Linked DNA regions of Homo sapiens: regions 1, 2 and 4 are each reported to be linked to region 3. The links are microRNA targets in miRTarBase. Many come from high-throughput screens and were not tested one by one. Region 3 holds a microRNA gene; each other region holds the end of a gene's coding sequence. Distances are between the middles of the regions.

Evidence for each region. The annotated mature microRNA hsa-miR-6134 reads UGAGGUGGUAGGAUGUAGA and lies in region 3 at 1,771-1,789, opposite strand. An mRNA with a match to its seed (bases 2 to 7 or 8) in the 3' UTR can be bound and repressed. Matches are read on the target gene's strand: a 7mer-m8 pairs with bases 2 to 8, a 7mer-A1 pairs with bases 2 to 7 and ends in A, and an 8mer does both.
Region 1: the mRNA of PRPS1 is a reported target of hsa-miR-6134. The part of its 3' UTR that is shown has no 7-base or 8-base seed match.
Region 2: miRTarBase lists BMP3 as a target of hsa-miR-6134. The part of its 3' UTR that is shown has no 7-base or 8-base seed match.
Region 4: miRTarBase lists ZNRF3 as a target of hsa-miR-6134. Seed matches in the 3' UTR shown: 7mer-m8 at 2,767-2,773.

Annotation. Positions count from the first base shown.
Region 1 is chrX:107,649,491-107,652,734 of GRCh38, reverse strand. PRPS1 (phosphoribosyl pyrophosphate synthetase 1) reads right to left here. Exons shown (of 7, transcript NM_002764.4): 7 at 1,709-2,795. The coding sequence ends at 2,703. Among named protein-coding and RNA genes, the nearest start is that of PRPS1, 23 kb to the right of the region's middle.
Region 2 is chr4:81,053,077-81,056,320 of GRCh38, reverse strand. BMP3 (bone morphogenetic protein 3) reads right to left here. Exons shown (of 3, transcript NM_001201.5): 3 at 1-2,976. The coding sequence ends at 2,785. Among named protein-coding and RNA genes, the nearest start is that of BMP3, 24 kb to the right of the region's middle.
Region 3 is chrX:28,493,805-28,497,048 of GRCh38, forward strand. MIR6134 (microRNA 6134) reads right to left here and starts at 1,859; the gene lies at 1,751-1,859.
Region 4 is chr22:29,053,136-29,056,135 of GRCh38, forward strand. ZNRF3 (zinc and ring finger 3) reads left to right here. Exons shown (of 9, transcript NM_001206998.2): 9 at 444-3,000. The coding sequence ends at 487. Among named protein-coding and RNA genes, the nearest start is that of C22orf31, 7.2 kb to the right of the region's middle. RefSeq lists a silencer at 2,066-2,360.

The sequences.
Region 1 (3,244 bases), 79 Mb from region 3:
CTTTGAAAGGGATCAAAGTTGGGGACTGGGCCTTTTTTGAATAATCTCAAAACCTCATCCTAGGAAATGAATTACCCAAAGGGGCCCACAAGAGAGATCTTAATGTCAAAATATTCTGTAACAATGAGACCTGACCCACTGATCCAATACTTTAGGAAATAGCATGATGAGCAAGTGAAGGCATTGGTGCTTCACATCAGCTTCTCCCAGAGCAAAAATCTGAGATTAAAGAGGTCTAGAGGGTTAGAGGCGCACATTTCATAGTATACTTTAGTCCCTCCTGAATCACTTTTATCAAAGAGCTAGCTGTAAAATAGATATCCCGATATCCAACAAAAGCAAAAACAAAATAAACAAAAGTAGACCTGGGCTTCACAAATAAGGAAGCACTCTTCATGAAGCTCTGTAGCCATGTAGCTTCCCAAAGTAAAAGAGCACCCTTATTTGATGATGGGCCAAGAAACTCACTCACTTAAGGCCGCCATGGTGGCTCATGCCTGTAATCCGAGCACTCTGTGAGGCCAAGGTGGGCGGATCACTTGAGGCCAGGAGTTTGAGACCAGACTGAGCAACATGGCAAAACCCTGTCTCTACTAAAAATACAAAAATTAGCTAGGTGTGATGGTGCACACCTGTAATCCCAGATAACCTGTAATCCCTCTCGAGGCTGAGGCAGGAGAATCACTTGAATCCAGGAGGTGGAGGTTGCAGTGAGCCAAGATCGAGCCACTGCACTCCAGCCTGGGTGACAGAGCAAGAGAAAGATGAAAGACAGAAAGAAAGACAGACAGACAGACAGAGAGAGAAAGAGAAGGAAGGAAAGAAAAGAAAGAAATGAAGAAAGAGAGAGCTAAAGGGAAAGAAAGAAAGAGAAAAAAAAGGAAAGAAAGAAGGAAACTTAAAATTTTGGAATGCATAATAATTCATCCTTAAATTTTGCACATTTACCTTCTCAAAATAGTTCTTATTTAGCAGGGATGAAAGTAAATGCCCAGCCGGGCACCAGTGGCTCACACCTGTAATCCCAGCACTTTGGGAGGCTGAGGCGGGCAGATCACCTGAGGTCAGGAGTTCAAGACCAGCCTGACCAACATGGTGAAACCCTGTCTCTACTAAAAATATAAAATTAGCTGGGCATGGTGGCACATGCCTATAAATTCTAGCTACTCAGGAGGCTGAGCAGGAGAATTGCTTGAACCCGGGAGGCGGAGGTTGCAGTGAGCCAAGATTGCACCATTGCACTCCAGCCTGGGCAACAAGAGCGAAACTCCATCTCAAAAAAAAACCAAAAAATCAAAAAAAACAAAGAAAGTAAATGCCAAACGTATGTCAATTACTGATGAATGGAAGGAAATTATCACATTTGGCAAAATTAGTTCAAAATGAATAAATCACAGAAATTCTCCTCCCATAAGAAAATACCTAATTTGGATCTTCAGGAGTAAGAACCAGAGATCCACCAGACATTATACATGCTATAATTTAGGTATACTGCACAGAATTACACTCTTATCACATTCTCAGTAAACTCCAGACATCTTAGTCTTACAGTTGAATAAAACTGCTGCCAATGTCTTCTCTTGGTTTAACAATGAAGCTAACGTAGTTTGGAAACAAATAAGAGCTATCAATGGACAGCAAGACATCTATCTAAACCAAACCTTTAGCAGAGAGATCAGTACAGATTATGTATGATACAGACCCCAAATCACACAGGTACACACACTTTATTAGTTTCCTCTACAAGAGACAATAACATCAATCTTTTTTAACAGGAATCTCAGTTCATTTGAGAGGCCAAATAGATCCAAAGAAGGAAGATGAAAATTAAATACTTAAATTAATCAAAAGGCACTACGATACCACCTAAAACCTACTGCCTCAGTGGCAGTAGGCTAAGGAAGATCAAGCTACAGCACATCATCTAATATGAATGTTAGCAATTACATAGCAGGAAGCATGTTTGCTTTCCAGAAGACTATGGTACAATGTTCATTTGGGCCCAAGAGGATATTTGGCCAGGAAAGGATCAAGATAGATGAAGGTAAAGCCAAATCGAAAGGGATAGGTACAAAGGAGAATCCAAGCTACATAGTCAAGCAGATGGTGATGGATCAGGCTTCTTCCTCCCAAGAAACATTTGCTGCACTGTGCTGCCTCCCCCCTCAACCACCCCCCACCCCCCACCCAATGTCTGCTCAAGCTGAGCTGCCTGCTCCTGCCTTACAGGGTGCTCAGCTACCAGGACTAGGTTTGGGGTTGCCCAGGGCTCTTGCTATAATTTAGCATAGACCTTGGGGAGAACTGGTCACACATGGGTTGCCTTTGTTGCTAGTTGTTCTCAACAAAGAAAACCCTGAAGCATTCACATACAAAGTAGTCTGAGCTTCCCCAGTCACAGTCAAACACCCTCACACAACATCCTCAAAAGTCTGAAATCTTGCAGCAGCTGAGCTATAGTTAAAGCTGCAAGGCCCACAGAATTATCAAGGAAGCCAGAATGAGATAATGCAGGTAGGAGGTCCCAGCAGTTAATCTCAATCCGTCTTTCCCCAGTTCGGATAAGCTCTAATATACCTGATGTGGGATGTAGAAAGCTACACTGGAGCAAGCCGGGTCTTCTGCTGAATTTGTCATCAAATACCAAGGGGAAACAAGGGTGGGGTGGATTTTATTCTCAAAAAGCCTCAGAAGTTACTCTATTATAAAGGGACATGGCTGAATAGGTAAGAAACGGATTCTCCATTGTGAGTTCTCCTGATGGCTTCTGCAAGGATCATAGAGATGTCAATCACCTAGAAAGGCAAGAAAGGAAATCAGGTTACTATCATATGGTCAGAGATGACTGGCCAATTTGCAGACACTGATGAGCAGCCAGGCAAGTGCCCTTCCTCTTAAAACTGCAACACTGTGCTGTTTCCCTGTCATGAGGCTGCACTCAGCTATTCTTCATAACATTTTTAAGATAGCCACTTACGGCTGGGCACGGTGGCTCACACCTGTTAATCCCTGCACTTTGGGAGGCCAAGGTGGGCAGATCACTTGAGGCCAGGAGTTGGAGACCAGGCTGGCCAACATGATGAAACCCCGTCTCTACTAAAAATACAAAAATTAACCAAGCATGGTGTGGCACACGCCTGTAATCCCAGCTACTCGGGAGGCTGAGGCATGAGAATTGCTTGAACCTGGGAGGTGGAGGTTGCGGTGAGCCAAGATCGTGCCACTGCACTCCAGCCTGGGTGAC
Region 2 (3,244 bases), not on the chromosome of region 3:
AACTGACTGTGTGTGTGTGTGTGTGCACACTGCATGGGGTAGAGAGATTACTTGTGGGGGAAGAGAGAGAGAGAGTATTATGCATGATTTAGCAAATGGAGTTTATAATTGTAGCTTCTCTTTTCATGAATGCCAATTTAATAATTTAATATCAGGAGATTTCTAAAGCTTCTGTGTAGGAATTATACAGAAACTAGTACCTAACAATTTGTAAAACAGGCACTTACTAAATTTTCTAACTACTCTTAGTAAATCTGTATTAATTAAAATATTAATACATTTACTTCAATCTCTACTACTGAAAGATAATCTTGCTTTATTCTTTGGGAATAAAACTCTTCCAATTTAAACCATAATACATCCTCAATTCATTAGTAAAATGATAGTTACAAAGCACCCAGAAAAACTGCTGGTTAAAACCTATTTCCATTGCTAAGAGATTACCCAAGTTCTTTCATTGTGTTGTAATTTTATATCAATTGCTACTTAAAATATAATCTTAACTAGTTAGTACCTGTAAATTTTATTATGTAGTGGGTTTTTGGCCATTGTGGGGTGCAATCTGTAATAACTAGGCATTGATTCAAATTAAGAAAGGTAATAAACAGGCATTTGGATATAAGAAGGCTAAGAAGTGATACTGGGAATTGCCAGAAGTTTTGGTTGATACAGCTCTAGAAAAAAACCTAAATTTAGAATTTCACCAAATCTACCAATGAAAAAGTTTTCTTTATTGAAAAACAGTACGATCAGGATGGTGGCCACACTCTGGCCCCCTTCTATCATATACTTTTATTTTCAAATGTTTGAGAACATGTATTAAAAAGTAATTTTATCCTCCATCTCACTTTGAATCTTTAATTTTATGCTACTGTAAGAACTAGAAGAAAGCATGGTAACTCAGGCACCAGAACTTCACTCATTTTTTTTAGAACTGGTGTGTCTCACTCACAGAATTAACACACACCCACACCAACATTTGTGTACCCCAAGGTGTCAAAGAGCTTCTTTTCATGAGTTATTCTTTTAATGGGTTTGCAATAAAATACCACTTAAACCAAAGCGAATGCCATACTAATTTACAAACAGCGAAGTATAGGATGTTCTTTCATTTAGTTTATTAAAAGAGGGACTTACAGTGTTTTTATATCTATCACTATCATTCCTTCAAGGAAGACGGGTGTGAAATAGCTGGAATTATAAACTTAACCCTTCCAGCTCATGGCCAGCCTCTTCATTTTACCAGTGAGGACACTAAAGACACACAGGTAACACAGTGCCTTTCACAAAATAGATGCTCAAAACATATTTATTAAATGACTGAACCACCATAATTAGCTACAGGCAGAGACAGAACAAACTCCACGTCTTCTGATACTGCACAGCCTCCAAAATGGCTGAGATATTTCTAAGTATCAGATAAGACGGAACTAAAATGAGGATTAACCACAGATTAACACCAACAATGATCTACGGCCTGAAAGCATTTCCATCACACAAATAAATATAGTGAGAAGAAGGATATTGAAATAATTTTGAAGACTAAAGTTATAAGAGGACACATATATGTATGTGACACATAGAAATGGAAAGCAAAGACAAACAAGTGTCTATATTTGATTCCCATACCTGACGAATAATGTTTTGTAAGCTTTGCTAACTTGTAGATTTCGTGACTGAGCCAAAAGCCCTGATCTATGTGAAAAAGTGCCTGACTTAGATGTGACTGAAGAATGATATTCAATATTTGGTTATGGTTAAATTGGTCATTTAAGAAGATCTTCAATATTCTACCAGTTTTTGGGCCTCAACATCTACCAATAACTTCATAGGAAGTAAAGGCATATCAGGAGAATTAAAGAGTTAATGGCTTTAGGAAGGATTTTTAAATTCAATTTAGAATAAATAAAAGCATTTGTGAAAAAGAAGTACAAAAGAGGAATTACACTTGTGTTTTCAAAAACTAGGTTTCTGATTCCTTTTTCTGGTAGGAAATGAAATGAAAACAACTGTATTTGCAATTAAATAGCTGGGTCAAGTGGTAACTCTCTGTATATGCTCTTGAATTATTCTATCATATTTGGCAAAGTTCTTATAACTGAATGGTGTTTGCCAAAATACAAAATTAAAAAAAATAAAGAATCCTGTGTAAACTGAATTATAAAACCATATTAAGCAAACCATCCTACAGAGGGCACAGGCACCTGGCGCATGTACGCACATACATACACACTAACGCTCAGCATAAACTTTCCATTACACTTAGACAATGACTTGTGGAGGAAAAACAAGGATAAACAAGAGTCTCAAGAACTTAAGAAAAACATCAGAGTTGATTATTTAGCACTTTCTCAGGATTCTAAGGCAATAAGCCTAATTCAAAACGCGAAATTGTTCTCTATTTCCCATTAGTCATTAAATGAGATAAATGACAAGCTATTGCTGCTTCTCCATTCTGTTTTCAAAGAACATTACAAAAATAAACCAGTGTGTTCTCTAACAGTTCTAAAAACAGTTTGATAAGTTGTTGTGTTTGATTACAAAAAGAGAAATAGATGTCCATATTTACTAAAAATCTTGCTTTAAGTTACATTCAGAAACAAATACAGTTCTTTTCCTTGGTGGCAATCTTCAGTCTATTTGCTCATTCCCCTCTGACTATAGAAATAATCTTTTGAAACAAAATGCATTGGCAGTGCAAAAAAAAAAAAAAAAAAAACAGGAAGAAGTCCATAAAAATAAACTAATGATTGAATTAAGCATTCAAATGAGTTCTTTGCCAGGTTATCTGCAAGCGCAAGACTCTACTGTCATGTTAGGGTATACTTTAAGCACTACATTCTTATTTTCATCAAAGAATAAAATACTGAGTGAGGACATCTTTTCTGGTACACAGCAAGGCTCAGGAATCCCAGGAACGACCCCCACAGCTCTCACTATACTCTGGATGGTAGCATGATTTGATGGCTTCAAAGACTAGAGAAAGAAATGAAAGAAGAACACATATGTTAGGTGGAACTGCGTTTCCACTCCTCAGTCCTCATTACACAAAATGCTTATCTAATGAATTTGTTTCAACAATTTAATAAAACCTCTGGCATCATTATACATTAAGCCCAATCGCCTATCCCACCACTACCAAAATGGTTATTATTTATTAAGTGCCTGCTGCATTCCAGGCATATTATATGTAGTATCTCTAATTCTCACAACAAAGCTAACATTTCTTACATTTTACAAAGGC
Region 3 (3,244 bases):
TGCATGTAAGTAAGCTATCACTTCTATTAATGGTTTATCACTTTGAGTGAAGTGTAGAAATCTTACTACCATTTAGGTCCTTTTACCTTTCCTAAATTTTAAATATAATGATCTTAATTATTTACTCTAGATACATTGAGCATCACATCTAATGATGTCATAATTTTTGCTTCAAACATCAAATATAGTGTATGAAACTCATGAGAAGACTAGTCTTCAATATATTACCCCATTCTTACTCATTCTGATGCTTTTCTTTCCTTTTTGAAGTTCCAAGCCTTCATTTGTTATCATTTCCTTTCTGTTTAGAGAACTTCCTTTAGCCTTTCATTAAGGGTGCTTTTACTTGCAACAAAGTATCATAAGTTTCCTTCTTGTAGGTTTCCTTCACCTGAGAATGTCTTTATTTCCCGTTTATTCCTGAAGAATATTTTTGCTGGATGCAGAATTCTGGGTTGATATTTACTTCCTTTCAGTACTTGAAAAATCTTGCACCACGCCTTCTAAATTGCATAGTTTTAGGGTGGGAAATTTACTGCAATTCAAGGTGGTATTCCTCTATATGCAATATGTTGTTTCTGTCTGTCTGCTTTTAATTCTTTTCTTTTTGTTTAGTTCTCACAAGTTTAATTTTGTTGTGTCTTTGCATACATTTTTTTAGGTTTATCCTACTTGGAGTTTCCTCAGCTTTTTGAATCTATAGGATATGGCTTTCACTAAATTTGGAGAGTTTTCAACCATTATTTCTTTAAATGTTTTTGTTCTTCTCAGACTCTGATGATACAAATGTTAGATCTTTGTTATTGTCCTAAAAGTTCCCTGATACTTTGTTTATTTTCTGCCCGGTCTCTTCTCTCCCCTGAGTTGTTATTGTCCTAAAGTTCCCTGATACTTTGTTCATTTTCTGCCAGGTCTCTTTTCTCCCCTGAGTTGAGATAAATTTCAAACTGAGTGCATTCCAATAATCTGTACTTAAGTTCACTGATTCTATCTTCTTGTGATCTCCAATGTACTCTTGAGCCCACCTATTGAATTTATTTTAATTACTACACTTTTCAGTTCTATGATTTCCATTTTGTTCTTTTTTATAATTTCTATTTCTTTGCTGAGGTTTTCTATTTTTTTCCTTTGTTTCAAGAGTATATGTAATTGCTTGTTGACACATTTTGATGATGGCTGCTTTAAAAACCTTATCAGATAATGCGAAGATCTGATTCACCTTGCTTTCAACCACCTTGGTGTTTTATCAGTTCGTTGGTTCTTTTTATTCATGCTGTGATTTTTCTGATTGTTCGTATAGCAAGTGATTTTTCCATTATAGTCTAGACATTTTAGATATTACATTATGAGACTATGGATCCTATTTCATCTCCTCTTTTTAGCAGACAATTGCCTGTTCAAGTGTAGCATGAAGGCAGTTTGCCATGCATATTCTGTTTCCAACTGAACCCCACCAACACTATCATGACAAAAGTGGGGCAGTGACTCACATTGCCTCACTACAGATAAGTGGGGTAGAGGTTTAGCCACACCTTTGGCCCTGTTAACACCATCTTGATGAAAGTAGGACACTGAGTCACATTGCTTCATTGCCTCTGAGTAGGAGTATAAGCTCGACTTCCCACTGGACACTCTGACACCAGCAAGGGGTAAGGAGAGGACTGATGCATACCTCTTTGTTACTACAGATGGGGGCAGAAGCTCACTGTCTGCTAAACCCCATTAATACCAGGGAAGCACAGGGTTTGAGAAAGCAGAGTGTCAACCAGCTCTACATCCTACCACCTCATTCAGCTTCATTTATGCAGGTGGAAATAGAGGGTCAGTTCCCTACTGAGCCCTACTGACATCAAGGCCCAGTGGGGAGCTGAGGTTCAACTCCCACCTGGCATCAATGCCTGGCATCAATGAAATGCTTGGTGACCCAAATTTGTACTGCCTTCCTAAGTCTCACTAATCCTGGGTACAGAGGAGGCTCAGCTGCCTGCTGGACCCCACGGCCACTACACTGGCTGGGGAATCAGAATACTGCCTGAGACAGCCAGGGAGAGGCAAAAAGACCAGGTCCCTGCTCAGTCCTGCTAACACTATCTTGGCAGAGGAATTGGAGCACTTCCTGGTTCTGCTGAATGGAAGCAGAATTTCAACTGCCCCATTAACTTGCTGACAAAAGTGCTGTCTGCTTCCACCAGGCAGCAGTGGGAAGATTAGCTCCACATTTAGAAAATTAGGTCCGTGCTCAGCCCCACCCTAGGAAAAGGAAGGAAGAAATTCGAGTCCCACCACCTGCTTTCATAGAGTAGGGTAGTGGTGTGAAAATCAACTCCCCACTAAGTTTCACTGAAATCCCAAAAGCAGGGGCATTTTTTTCTATTGATGTTTGGCTGAGGGTGTATGTATTGCCAAAAAGGTTTTTTTTATTGTTGGGACACCCCATTTCTGGTCAATTAGCTAGGGAAGAAAGTACTTTTTTTGGAGTTTTCTTTTATCCATGGCTATTGGCAGTTCCGGGTTAGATGCTTCTGAAGAGCCCTGTCTGGGATATATGGGCTATATTAAGGAAACGCAGATAACACATCACCGTTTTATTCTTCAAGTCCCAAGGTCCCTAGGTAGTCCACCCCTTTCAGCATTTTCCTATGCTTAGTGCTATATCCAAAGATCTAGGAAAATATGTATCATATGAAATTCAAGTGATATGTCAACTTGCAACATTTGAATTAATTTATATTCTAGACAACCTTTTTAGGTCCTCTTAAAATTTAAGTTGACAGTGAAGTGCCCATTCGAGTGGGTAAATTTTGATATAAAAGGTCAGTGCTACTCATATTTTCCCTGGAAAATCCCCTAAGAATATCAAAGTATTTCTTGTTTTCCCCCATATCTTCCAAACATTTTAATGCTTCTAAGAGCTGATTATGGTAGAATTTTTTTAAGTATACAATCGTCTAAAAATAGCTCTGATTCTATGAATTAGGAAAGAAAAAGGAAAGAGAACCATTAACAGTCCAATCAGATAGTTAAATAAATAAATTTTTGCTAGAAAGAACTGAGAAAGTGGCATCATGTAACTAACTTCAAAATAATACATGGATAAAAATATATATTACTAAAACTATAAATGTTTACAAAAACGTCCGTTAAAAATAAAAACAAGGCCAGCGCGGTGGCTCACGCCTGTAATCCCAACACTTTGGGAGCCCAAGGCGGGCGAATCACTAGGTCGGGAGTTCGAGACCAGCCT
Region 4 (3,000 bases), not on the chromosome of region 3:
CGCTACTTTTCTCCTCCAGATCTTAGGTTAGGTAACACTCCAGCCCCCTCTGAGATCACCTACACACCTTCTGTTCACTTCTGTCATCCTATTGCTAAATTACTTTGTCTCAAGGTTCGTAATCTCTGTGAGGGAGTCCTCTCTGCTGCTTTTCCCAAGGCCTGACGCACACCGGGCACCCAGTTAACATCTTTAATATATTGGGCTTTCGTGCTACCTGAGGGCTTCTAGAAAGCTCTCTACATCCAAGTGAGAGGCTGGCTCTCCAGGAGGTACCTGTGCTCTCAGCACAAATGGAGCCCCTCTGGGAACAGGAACCTGCTTCAGCCCTTTAGCATACACAGGCCTGCCACATGCTGGGGACAGGGCCACCTGAGTCCCTTGCCTGGTCCCATGTGTGGTGCCAGCTCCCTCCCCTGATGATTGTTCTCTCTCTTTCCCAGGACCGAGATCTCACTCAGCAGACAGCAGCAGCCCGGGAGCCTGAGCTCAGGAGGAACTCTTACCTGGAAATTGGGAACTGTATGGAGACTCCAAACTGACTTCTTTCAAAAAACAAAAACAAAAAATTTTTTTAGCTTTGACAAACACACAAAAGTGGTAATAAAGAGAGCCCTCCTTGTCAACCCAAAATGTGAGCCCCCTGTGGCAAAACCACCCCCTACCCCATTAACAAATCAACAGACAAAATTCTCCGAGTCCTTTGCCTCTTTTGATAACATGTTGTTCTGTTTTGTAAAGTGTGTGTGCTTGGGGTTCCGAGGTGTGGGATTGAGTTCTCTGCTTTGTTTTTTTTTAAGATATTGTATGTAAATGTAAAAAGTTATTTAAATATATATTTTAAAGAACCCTAACTGCCAACTTTTGCTGAAAAAGAAAAAAAAATCACTGCTGCATTAAATGAACCACATCATGTGTAGATACTGTTGTCTCCCTGAAGGGAGCTCAGGCCTTTGAAAAGCTCAGGGCTTCACCTGCCTTAGAAAATGAACCAGAAACTTGAAGTAAAGCTAGTTGATAGGGGTACAGGCTCTGAGGAGCAGTGCAAAACTGCCTCTTTCTTTCTCGTGGCAAATCCCAATGTACACGATTTCAGGTCTCAGACGCCATGCCTCTCCAGCCCACGCCTTTAGGCAGGTGATGGCAGCAGCTAGGAATAGGGTGTACATGATCCACAGCCCTGCGGAGCCAGGTCAAGCCGCTGCTATGAAAGCTCCAGGGTGATGGGGACGATTCTGCCCAGTGTCCTCAGTCTGTCCCCTCAGGTCATGGTCCCAAGTGAAATGACAGAGTTCACAGCCCTGGTCTTGGCTGAGGTCCAGGTCATAGTAAGGGCATGTTCTTGGGGCCCTCGACCTGAACTCTGACCCTCCGGGCAGGGAAGAGGAGGTTGTCCCCTTTGGTTGTCCTGGCTTTGGAGTCCTTTGCAAAAATATTTTGGGCCCCCTGCCACTGGCTGCAGAAATGGCTCGACGGGGTGTGTGGGGACAGACACCCAGAAGGAATGTACTTTTGTGGCCTTGGTGTCCGATGGGGCTGGGGGAGAGTGCTCTCCACTGACCCAGCAGCACACCCATGTGCAGTGCGCCTGCATCTGTGTGGGGGCAGCCACACCCCTTGGCTGCTGCTTCCTTGGGCTGCCTTTCTGGGGGCATGTGACTGGACCTACGAGGTCTGCACTGAGCTCCATTTGAATGATACCTTTCCTATCCCATTTCCCCCACGGAAGCACCGCTTCAGGGTTATTCAGTCCTCTGCCTCATGGCTGAAATTGCTCATCTCGTCTGCAGATGTCTACTATCCTGTCTACCTAATGCACTATTATGTATTGATTCTCCATGAGACAGAGAGAGAGAGAGACTATCAGATAGTTTACACCCAAAGGGTAGGTTTTTGTATATTTTTCCAGCCTTTTTTATTAAGGGGAAGGGGAGAGTTTAAAAACCCAAACCGTTGTGGTTTTAAGGTGTTTCATTTTTAAAAGGGAGAGAGAATCTATTTAAAGCTATTTCAGATCAGGGATTGTCATCCTTTTTTGTCCAATGTATTCCTTGTTCTTTAAAAAAATTTTTTTTAGAGGAAACTAATATTAGTCTTTGTGTTCACTAACTCTTCTGGTCACTTGTATTTATTTATTCATTCATTCATCAGATATTTGTTGCCATCTGAAAGAACTGGCCCAGTGGGTCTGAAAGCTCGCTTGAGAATAGGAAACTTGAGACCTGGCCCCCTGTGGGTAGGAGAACAAGGACCACCTGGGTTCTCCAGTCTTGAACGAGAATCTCACTCTTATCAGAATGTTTTTCTTAACCTCAGCGTATGATGAGGAAATTTACTTATCTCTAGCTAGGATTTGACAAATTCCAACATCAAATGATCAAAACATTTGCCACTGAGGCTTCACTGGTGAGATCCGTTCTCCGTCCTCGGGTGCAGTCCCTTGGGGGCTGCTCCTCGGACTGCGCCCCGCACACCTGTTATCGAGGGTGTGAGAAGCGCCTAAGCTGGTGACATGTGATCTGGGACGCCTTCATTTCTCGGGCCAGGAGTAGCAGCTGCTAAGGACAGCAGCTTGCATTGCGTGGTTTTAGGGAAGCAGGGTCTGGCTTTTAATATGAACTGCAAAAAGCAGCTTCTCACTGATATTTTTTTGTTGTTGTTTCTGGGGGGTTTTTTTGTTTTGTTTTTAATGCCTTTGAGTGCATATTTTCTTCCTCGTCTGAAACCGAACTCCCAAAGTGGCTTTCTTTAGCCCTGGCTGGAAAACCACCTCTCAATAGCCTTAAGCAATAAATAGATGAGTAGAGAATGTGGCTTCAACTGGGCTTATTAAAGTAAGTGTGTCTAGTTTTCACTTGAACAAGTGATAGCTGCAGATGGCGAAAGAAACCCATTTAATTTTTGTAGCTTACAGGTGGTAGAAACAAAAATGCAATTTTAAAACCTTAAATACCAAATACCAACCATTGCCTTTTTTTTTTTTGAGATGGAATTTTGCTC